Regions from separate parts of the Homo sapiens genome. Here region 1 is linked to region 2. Evidence: fine-mapped expression QTL. A gene starts in region 2. The other region holds a variant in brackets. All regions are shown on one strand. Distances are between the middles of the regions.

The links. PIP is the estimated chance that this variant, and not a neighbour inherited with it, causes the effect.
Region 1: its variant is the best candidate, but not a certain one, in a credible set for the expression of PHYHIPL in pancreas (GTEx, PIP 0.68).

The regions. Positions count from the first base shown.
Region 1 is chr10:59,106,363-59,111,898 of GRCh38, reverse strand. No RefSeq gene overlaps it. Among named protein-coding and RNA genes, the nearest start is that of CCEPR, 67 kb to the left of the region's middle. The variant G/A (reference allele first, on the strand shown) is at 2,642.
Region 2 is chr10:59,174,514-59,179,513 of GRCh38, reverse strand. It overlaps PHYHIPL (phytanoyl-CoA 2-hydroxylase interacting protein like), which reads right to left and starts at 2,871. Exons shown (of 5, transcript NM_032439.4): 1 at 2,555-2,871. The coding sequence starts at 2,660. CCEPR (cervical carcinoma expressed PCNA regulatory lncRNA) reads left to right here and starts at 3,050. Exons shown (of 1, transcript NR_131782.1): 1 at 3,050-5,000.

The sequences.
Region 1 (5,536 bases), 68 kb after region 2:
TTCAGAGCAAAGGATATTATCAGCAACAAAGAATTTTTTGTATAATGATGAAAGGGCCACACATTTTTGGTGAAAATATAAAATGGAACAACCTCTTTGGGAGACAGTTTGGAAGTTCTTAATAAAATTAAACATATATCTGTCATATGAACAAACCATTCCACTCCCTGTTATCTATCCCAGAGAAATGCAAGCATATGTCCATACAAAGACTTATGTACCAAGGTTCATAACAGCTGTATTTGTAGTAGCCCCAAAATGAAATCAACCCCAATGTCCATCAATGGGTAAATGAATAAACAAAGTATGTTACATTCACGGAATGAAATATTATTTAGCAGTGAAAGGAATTAACTCTTAATGCATGAAACAATATAGACAGTCTCAAAGTAATTGTGTGGTTTGAAACAACCAAGAAGAAAATCAAGAGTACATACTGTGTAATTTTATTTACATAAAATTCTAAGAAATGCAAACTAATGTATAGTGACAGAAAGCAGATCAATGGTTGCCTGGAAGCAGCCAGATGGGCAGGTGAGAAGGGTATTGTGGGCAGGAGAAGCAAAAAGGAAGGACAAGGCATAAAGATTTTTTTAGAGTGCTGCATATGTTTAATATCTTTATTGTGGCGATGGACTCATAGATCGTATTGGATGTGTGAACATACGTCATATGTCGAGGCTTATAAAGTTGTGTACTTTAAATATGTATAGTTTATTGTATGTCAATTAAAACTCAATGAAGCTTAAAAACTAAGTGGAATACAATAGTATGCATAGAAGATATCACCTCAGCGTGATCAGGATGCAAATATTTTACCATTTTCTCCTCTCCACTTTGCACCTTCAGCATTAGCATTTTTTTTTTTAATCAGCCAAACAACAAACTTTAATAATTGGTCTCAGAAATAGGCAGATGCCAAGTAGGGACCTTGATTGGACTCATATTAACTGAAAATATTATCCAAAAATAATGACTATAATGTTGGCTTTAAGAATCTGTGCAATTGTGATCCTTCAGTAATTTAGACAAACTTATGACAACCTCCCTCAAAATCTCCTAAGCCACCAATGAAAAATTTCACCTTCCTTGTGGCATGATTGTAAATGCAGACACAGACTCACTGGGCTTGAAAGGAAGGACTTAAAAAAATATCGGGCTTGATGCTTCCTTTCACAAAGAGATTGAACATCAGAAAAAATAAGTGACCAGCTTAAAGTAACACAACTAAACGGAGCAAGAACTCATGCCTTCTCACTTCTCTGAGAGTTCAGTATTTCAAAATTAAAAGGCTTCAATATAGAGGCCATTCAATAAATATTTGTTAAACTCAGAATAAATATCCTAGATTGAACTCCTAACCGTGGACTCTCTTATTTTAGGATGCACTGAGTTATTATCAAAGAAAAAGCAAACTCTGATGCAAAAATCCATACCTCATACCTCTCCACATAAACATGTTTCTGTTGTTGGTAAGGGACACTGTAGGAAGAGCATAAACTGACCTCATCTCTTTTATCCTGTCATTTCTGCTCTGTTGTATTACGGCATGACCCATTTATTTGGGTTTATGGAAAAAATGAGCCATTACAAATTCTCCATTCATATCTTCCCCTTTCTCATGTTTTCTTAATGTAGTTTTGTACTTGATTTTCGTTTATCTCTATTTATCTTTAATTAAATCTCTGGCAATAACCTTCCCAGGATTCTGGGAACATTAATTCAGTTTTCTCAAAGCCGTTCAAGGGATAAACTATGCCTAAGGGCTGCCAAGAAAGGTGCAGGCTTTGGGAGGATTAGAACACAACTATCAATCCCTCAGAATGAGTGCGAGGAAAAATCTACATGTTTCAGTTAAACTAGTATCAACCATTAAGAAACCACAGTAAACAGATGCAGAACAGTTGTGGTTTTGCCATAAATGCACACACATAGAACATTTCTTAGCTCTTGTTTTTCCTACTCTGCCACTGTTTTGTATCATGACCCCATAAACTTAGTCTAAAGAAAAAATGCTAGTTTTTTTGTGGCCCAACTTAAATATAAAATTTAATCATCTGATATATTTTTTATACAGAGTTTTCAGAAACCGAAACTTTTCAGAAACTTTTATACAGAGTTTTCAGAAACTGTGACCAAATCCCTAGGGATTGAGAAGTAATAGGTTATAAAATAAGGCTGAGCTTCAAGAAGGTTTAATCACAGGATAATGTAATGCATTCTGCAAAATAATTAGAGCATAATTTGCAATTATACTGTGGTCATGGCTCTCAAATTTTGGGGTACATAAGATACACAGGATATTCCCTGGCACTTCTTCCAGAAATTCTGATTTAGTATATCTGGGTGGAGCCCCACAATTTCCACTTTTTAACGGGTTTCACAAATGATTTTGCTGTAGGTGGGTTTTTGTTAATAAAAATTGCTGAAATTCTCTCCAATTTTGTCGCAGCAAAACACTAAAATTTAAATTTCACTACTTACTAGCTAAGAGTCCTTAGAAAAGTCAAATGACTTCTCTATATCTCATCTTTAAAATAAGAAAGATAATGTAAGGTTTTGTGGGAATTAATAGAATAATGTATGTAAAGTGCCTGGTACAGAATAGGCACTTAAGTAATGTTAGTTTCTTTTCCCAAAC[G/A]TATATCATGTTCCTTCTTAATCTGACCCTGAGCTGGAATGTGTTTCTCCCTTAATTATTAACCTGAGTATAAACAATTCCACATCTTTAATATTGTAAAAAGTTACATACTTCAACTCAAATGACCAATTGTGTTAGTTGCCAGTCCCAGAAATATTTTTGCTTTTTGAATGACTGAGGCATGACCAGAACATGGATGCCTGATATAATTAGCCATGATGTAAGAGCTAGCAAATGAATATTTAGGCAACACACACACATATACACACACACACACACACACACACATGAAATTCCTAACCCATACTTACCATGCTGCTTTGGGTTCTGTTGTGCAAACTGAGAGAAAAATTGCCATAAGAATAAATTAAAAAGCACAGAGCATTTCTGCTCATAGACAAGGGTTCAGGGTAAATACTAGTTCATTTTTTGGATATATGTTCTGATTTCTCAGCCTCTTGTTTTACTATTCATCCAAAGGTTTTAGATCCAGTGAGATGCTCTGACACATGTAGGATTTAAACACAAGCCCAATGCACACCCCGGCAGCCCAGAGGAACATTTTTCAAAATGAGAAATATGTTTGGGCCAATAGCCAACAATGGTAAGGAGAAGCTCAGCATCCCAAATGAGCACACAGAACTCAACTCTCTGAGTTTTATGAAAGTCTCTTTCCTTATTTATCAGGGCAGGATGAAAGGGATGAAAGCTAAAAGGGGTTGTAAACAAAATTTGACCAGGGCCTGTCCAGACAGAACCCTGTCCAAAGGCTCTTCCTTCATCCTGCCAAACACATCAAAGCCTTTCTAATTCATATATGCCTAAAAAGCCATCCCCCCATTCAGCACTGCTCCACAAAACACTGGGGAAAGCATGCCAAGCTTTTACTTACACTAAAAAGGCTAAAAATGTAAACATTTTTAAATGACTAATTTTTATTTTTATCAAAACCATACAGGTATGGTATTTGAAAAGTACTAAGTAGCTTACACTAAAAAAGAACAGTTGCCCCCATATCCCCAGCAACATTAAATCTACTCTTTCAAGCAACTACTTTCAAATATCTGTTTCTTCTAGTATCTATCTCCATGTTTCTATATAACTTTATATTTAATGTTATTTAACTATGTCAATATGATTCACCGCTGGGCTAAGTCATGGTCTATAATTTTACTTTCTTTCTTGAATGTGTATTTTTTTTTTTGTTTTTCCTAAAGTTATTACGTCTTTTTAAAGAACTGGTTTTCTCTGTATTTACACCTACGTCTTTCTACATTCTATAGCTGCCAGCATTTCAATAGAATTGTCCACAAATATAACCTGTCAGATAATTTCTCATTTCCATTCTTTTTTCTTGAGACTTTCCTCCTAGAGTCAATTTAGGCCTCCTATTTTAAATTTTAAATGGATTCCTAAAAGTCACATTGATCCACTATCTAGGACCCATGGTTTTTTCTTTTTTTAATGGCCTGATTTCAAGATCAATTCCAAAGGATCCCTGAAAAAAACAATTATTCCATTTATGGTTTAGAGGTAGCCTAAAATAGAATATTGAACCAATTTACATATTACTCTTAATGGTGGCAACTGATATGTTCTCACAAATGGCAAAATCAAAACAACCTAATAGAACAACCTAAAAATGGTGATGAGCTCTCCTAATAAGAAAGCCAAAGGCCGAGATGTGAAAATGGAGAAGGCTTAAAAATTTGTGTTTTCCCCTCAAGTTCCATTGAGTTATCTGACAGTTGATTGTCATCTGATTTTGTCAATTCACTATAATTGAACAACATGTACAAGCAACAAGGAAAAATCAATTCGGTGACCATGAGAAAAAGAGAAATGAGTTGTAGACTCACTGGGAAAGTTTATAAAGCCTTCTCTGTAGGGTTTAGTTATTGCTTTTTGTTCTGAAACAGCAGCACTGAAGCACAAAAATGCAAGTAATTGGGGTCAATGTTCAGTCAGATCCCTCAAAAAAGGATCTCAAGCCAACCAGCATATGGTATGCAGTGTCCTCTGTTAGAATAAAACTTTGACTTCAAATAAACATGTGATGCCTCTAACTTTTCCACTGGGGAAAGTTAATGAGTTTTTTTTGACAAGTGTAGCAAAGATGTGATTTTCAGAAGTGAAAGTCTAAATACCTAAAACTCCTTGGGTAAAAAAAAAAAAATTATACTCTTGAAAGGAGACAAAATGCACATTAATTCAAATGCCTTTTTGTTTTTTTGTGTAAATCTCTTAGGGCCAATAGGGAAGAAACTGTGTCAAAATGGGCAGAAATGAGATTCCAGGATCTCACCAAGAGGAACACATAAATATTCAAGAATTGATTTCAATGTTTTGTGCAAAGGAGGTTGTAGGCTGCTGGACTGGGGATTAGGCTATTAGAACTTTGTCCAGATACTTATGGAGAAGTTCATCCTTTCTCACTGACCTAGGAAGAGACAAAAAATGGCAAAAGGGAGCACTGACTTTTCTGAGAAATGTTGACAACTGGCCTGAATGTCTGTTCCTCAGAGGTTGCCTGCTTGTTTTCTCAAGTCCAGTGTGCACTTGCAGACATAGCATGTTTAAAGGTATCACTTAACTTTCTAAGTGTCAGTTTCTTAAATGGAAAATAATAGCAGTACCTGTAAGAGCTGTTCTGAGAATTGAAACTTTACGTAAACAACAAATTGCATTCAGAAAGCTTTTGTAGAGTCTTGAAAATTCAGGCCACAAGCATATGAGTGTCTCCTATACTCCTGAAAGCAGCCCTCTATACTCCTGAAAACATGTCCCCAAGTTGATGTGAAAAAGTAAAAGCAGCCTTTATTGACTTCTGATCCTTCTAAATCTTCAGTTACCTCCCTCTTCTGCCATGGAACCCTTGGGCATTCCAGCCTTCAT
Region 2 (5,000 bases):
ATTAATGTTTCTCTCATTTTTTTTCATCACCAAATTAACAGTAGATTAAAAGAAAGTGAGAAAAGAGCAAACAAAATAAATGTATTCTATCATAAATTATGAAATATAGCTCTTATTAGGTACTTAAACACAAAATAGATCTTCTGTCCCATATTCTGCCACATCCTTTTCTATGTTACATAGTTACAGAAGTAAAATAACGAGACTTGAGTGGAAAGAAAGTGAAAGGAGGGAAGCAAAGGGAGTAAAAAGCAACTAGCTGAAAATCTCTCAATACAAAATGATGCTAAGTAAGGTCTGTTTGACAAATTTAATGCAACATTTCATATGCTGTTCTATTAAAAACAAACGACATTATTCCCCCTAAATTATCCCTTTGAAGCCAACCAAGTTAATATTTTTGGAATTGACATGTAAGATAGGATAACAAAATAAGTTAAGCATTTAACAACATCTCTAAACAAAGTATTTCCAAATTTTATACATCTTCTAGTAGAAGAGTTAGCTCTTTGTATTTGTTGGTGTATACTATTTTATAAAATAAAACCCTATTTAATTAGTCTATGTAAATTACTTGGAAGTCTGCAAATAGTAATTTTCATAGATGTTACTTAGTGCCAGCACCCTCCCCAAAATTAAATGTTACATAATTTGTTCATTTTGTGGGATTCCTAATTTGAAAAGAAACAACTAAAAAATAATACCAGAATAAAATAGCTACTCCTCTAGGGGATCACAGTAAATACAGCATTATTTTTTGCACTCTCTTAACTCTGTGAACTTCATTAAAAAGTTTAAATTTTCCCTAATATCTTTGAAACACGTGGTAAATGCGGTTTTAAGTATTGAGATTACTGGGTTCTGAAGAGCAACAATGAATGCCTAATTCCATTGAGTACAAGAATGAGCTTTTGCTTTATCATTGCAATAAATAAAAATGAAGTCTACTTTTATTAGTCTTGTGTTTCTCTCAACCCTAAGAAAATAAAAATATTTACAACTTGCAATGGTTACATTACAAAAAGTCATTTCATAAAAGTCTAAACTAAAATCCAAATGACTTCCTATGCGTTATTAAAAATAATCTTTACAGTCTATAATCATGCAAGCTTACATATGGAATACCAAAATGATAAATGTTTTTAGATACCATAAATATGTGCACTTACTACCATGGTGACTAAAACAGTCTAAGAATAAAGGAAATACAAGCTGTCTTTGCAAACGTATTTATTTATTCATATACTACACCTGTATCAGAAATTAAAGTGGTTTTGGTTTCAAAAAGTTTGAATTCTGGTTTCAAAATTATTAAATATAAATTTATATTAATAAATATAAAATTTAGTAATAAACAAATTCGGTGCTTGCTTGATATAAACGTGCTGAATAGCAATGCGTAACCAAGTGATTACCATTTAAATGACTTTGGAAACAAGACCTCTGCTCCCTATTTGGATTAGGCTGATAAATTTTATGACCTTACTGTGAGCGTATTAGTATCTGTACATAACTTTGGTTAAAGACATGTTTTACAATCATTACCTCTATATACAGTTAAACATTAATTTCATTTACAGTCAAAAGTATTTGGGGCCCTCTTAACAACATGTGAACTGTGTTTCCTTTGTCAGATGTAGAATTTTACAATTATTCGGCCAACCAATTACTAATCAAATGATTTCTTTACAAATGAAGTTTTGTACCACATTACTAAAGTAGCAGACTCTAACTAGTCCAGCTAACCCAGAAGCACTGTAACTAACCACACCGCACACAGCACTAGCTTATGTCTTCAACGCTCAGACCTGTATTCAATCAATTTCCTTCCACAGGAGCCTGCCAACTTCAACAACAGAATAAACGATATAATATCAACACGCAATGGTACGTACTCGCCACAAAGTCTGAATCACAGCACATATATTAGGCCAATATTTTCGACAGTCTGACTCAGAGCCCAGGAACCATGAAGATTGTGTCTGTCCTTGGTGCTGAAATGCACTGTTTTTCTGCGCCCTCACTGAAAAACTGTCATCCTAATCCCAATCCAAGAGGCTAAAAAGACTTGTTAATTTGGGGAGTCTGAGGATGGGAGGTTTAAAAAAGAAAATGATAAGTTTCTGGAAGAGAATGCCAACTAGTGTGTGTGTGTTGGGGGAAGGGGGTTGCTAGAAACATCCCGAGGGCATTTCCCCTTCAGTGCCCAGAGACCCAGGAAATCCGGACTGCGGCAAAGATCGGAAACGCCTCGTCGGGGCAGGAGCCGCGAGCGGGAACGTCGCCCTCGTCCGGGCCAGGCGGGCGAAGGCGGCGAAGGGCGCCACGGTTGTGGACGGCTACTTTCCGCGCCAAGGCGCGAGCCCCGGGGTCCTTTTGTTTCTGGGGTGAGGGGAGGGCGGTGGGCGGAGGGTAACCCACATCTGCATTTATTTGCACAGAGGGGACAACAAAAGACCCTGCCGCCCTGGCGAGCGGCGTCGGCGGAGCCAGAGTGGCCCCGGCGCCTCGGCGCGAACTCTGTCCCTTTCCTCGCGGTCCCGGCCGCTCTTACCGTCCCGGTCGCACAGCTGAATGGCCTCCAGGCTGAGGTTTTTGATCACCTCCTCACAGGGGCTGGTGGGGCTGTTGAGGGCATGATCCAGGCGCGGCACCTCCATTTTTCCAACCCACTCTGAAGCCCGCCTGCTTCGTATCCAGGCTCTCTCTGCCGGCCGGGTGGGCAAGAAGAGCGGGAAAGGGAGGGGGAGTGGCAGAGGGAGGGAAGGAGGCCTGGGACGCGGTGATGCGGCGCCGAGGCTGAGGCGCGGGGCTGGAGAGCCGCCGCGAAGGCGACGGCTGTGGCAGGAGCTCCGCGGAGTGTGCGGCTCTGAGAGACCGAGCAGGACCCGGCGCGAGGATGGGAGGCGCGCGCTCCCGGCGGGGAGGGGACGCTGCTCTCGGGGAACGTGATGTATAGGGCTTCGACGCGCGCACGCGCGCGGGAGAACGCGCCCACCTGCTGGCGCGCGGTGGTCCCTCCCCCGCCCTTCTGCGCGCACGCGCCCCCACCTGCCCTCCAGCCACTGCCAAGGCAACCTCGCGCGTGAGGCGTCGGGCGACCGAGCGCGCGGGAAGGGCGAGCGCTATACGCCGCGCGGCTGCCTCGCCCTCTCTCCTGGTGATAGCCATTTGGCGTCTTCTGTCTGCTCTCGGTGCCTGGCGAAGCCCGAGTTGGCCCTGAGGCGTCTGCACGGGGAGGCGAGGGCGAGCATGTTTGTTGTTTACCAAGAATTGGAAAAATAAGGGCCCGGACTCTTCGGACTCTCTGTACGGTATTGGGGTGTGGGAGCCACCTCCTCCCCTGAAGGTCCCAGGATACTCGCTGCCCGCACCCTGCGGGCTCGGCCGGACATTCCTCGGAAACAGCTGCGTCTGTGTGAGAAATGAGCGGATTACCTGAGGCGTGGAGGGGTTTAGAGACAGCATTTTGCCAGTCCACGACACTGAAGCGGGGCAAACGTGGGAACTCCTTACTGCCAGAAAGGTGAGGGAATGAGGAGATGCAGCAAGCCTGCTGAAAAGGCGGCAGACATGCTGCGGGGCCAGCAGCCACGGGACCAGCAGCCACGCAGTCTGCCTTCGCAGCGTAGCTTCATTCATTCATGCGCGTAGCAAATAAGTATTCAATGCTCACCCTATGCCATTGTTCTGGGCGTCAATGAAGGGAGTATAAACAGCACCTGCTCCCATGGATTTGGAAGGAATCTTTGCTACAATAGCTAATGAAGATTGACTTGTGCTTCCTCAAGCTACTCTATAACTTGTATGCCCATTGATTTTAATTGCATTTAAGATTCTGCAGTGCACTTAGTGGATGTGCAAACGTTTTAAACATAAAATAGAGGTCACAGCCTATTGACCTCTGTTCCCGTTTGCTTCTTTGGAAAAGTTTTTAGTTTTGTTGCTATCTTGGGATCAAAAATAGTGTCCCCTCTTTTCTTAATGTGCTTATAAATTAATATAAGTTCCCTTTTATTGATTTTCCATTTCAAACATAAATGTTAACCAACAAGTAACAGTTTACACATAGATGTCTGTATGCTGCTCTTTCTAGTCACATCCATTTAGCTATAACATGATGAAGTCTAATTAATTGAAGCTTCAATAAATGGAAGGACCAGCTTAAAGTAAAATAAGCCTGTGAAAAATCTTGGCACAATTGAAATTTCATAAATATCTGTGAAAGATAATTAGGCATCTTAAAGTGAAAAGTCTTCATTATGAACTTATTAATGAAGATGGATGTTTTTGAAGTTTGAAAGAATTCTTGTCTTAAGGTAGGGGTGTCCCCAAGGAGAGGGTAAATTATTACCTGTCAAAGGATATGACAAGAAAGTACTTACTGGTGAATTTTCTGTGTTCGAAAGCCTGGCTCTGTAGAACTAGAAATTGGTATTGTAAGCCCAACAGTGGGTTCATTTTTTAGAGTAGTCTCAAATTTATAAATCTCAAAAAAAAGGAACTGTGTAAACTAGAATAACAATTTACTGATTTTCAAGTAAGAAATACGACATGCATTTAATTCAAACTCATGCAAATATTTATGAAGCACCTATGTCCAGGACACTGTGCTATGTGTTGAAAATTTGGAGTTCAAATTTATCAAGAAAGATATATATTGAAAAAGTAAAAGTAGGATGGGTGTTAAGAAAGAGGAAGTATGGGAGCTTGTAGAAGCACGCACGAGGTTTATAACCTAGGTTAGATGGTCAGGAAGATCTCCAAAATGATTTTATCTTAAGGGAATGAGAAATTATTAAAAAGGCTTTAAATAGGAAATTAGCATGATCAGATTTGTCGGCTAGAATATTTGTGTAATCGGAAAGGGTAATGTTTCAAGAAGTGTATTAATGTCACTTTCTGGGTATACAACTTAATCAATCCAAGGCACCTTTCTGCTGAGGATTTGGATTCTTGTATAAAAAATACAAAAGAAATATTTACTTTTTAACTTTCGA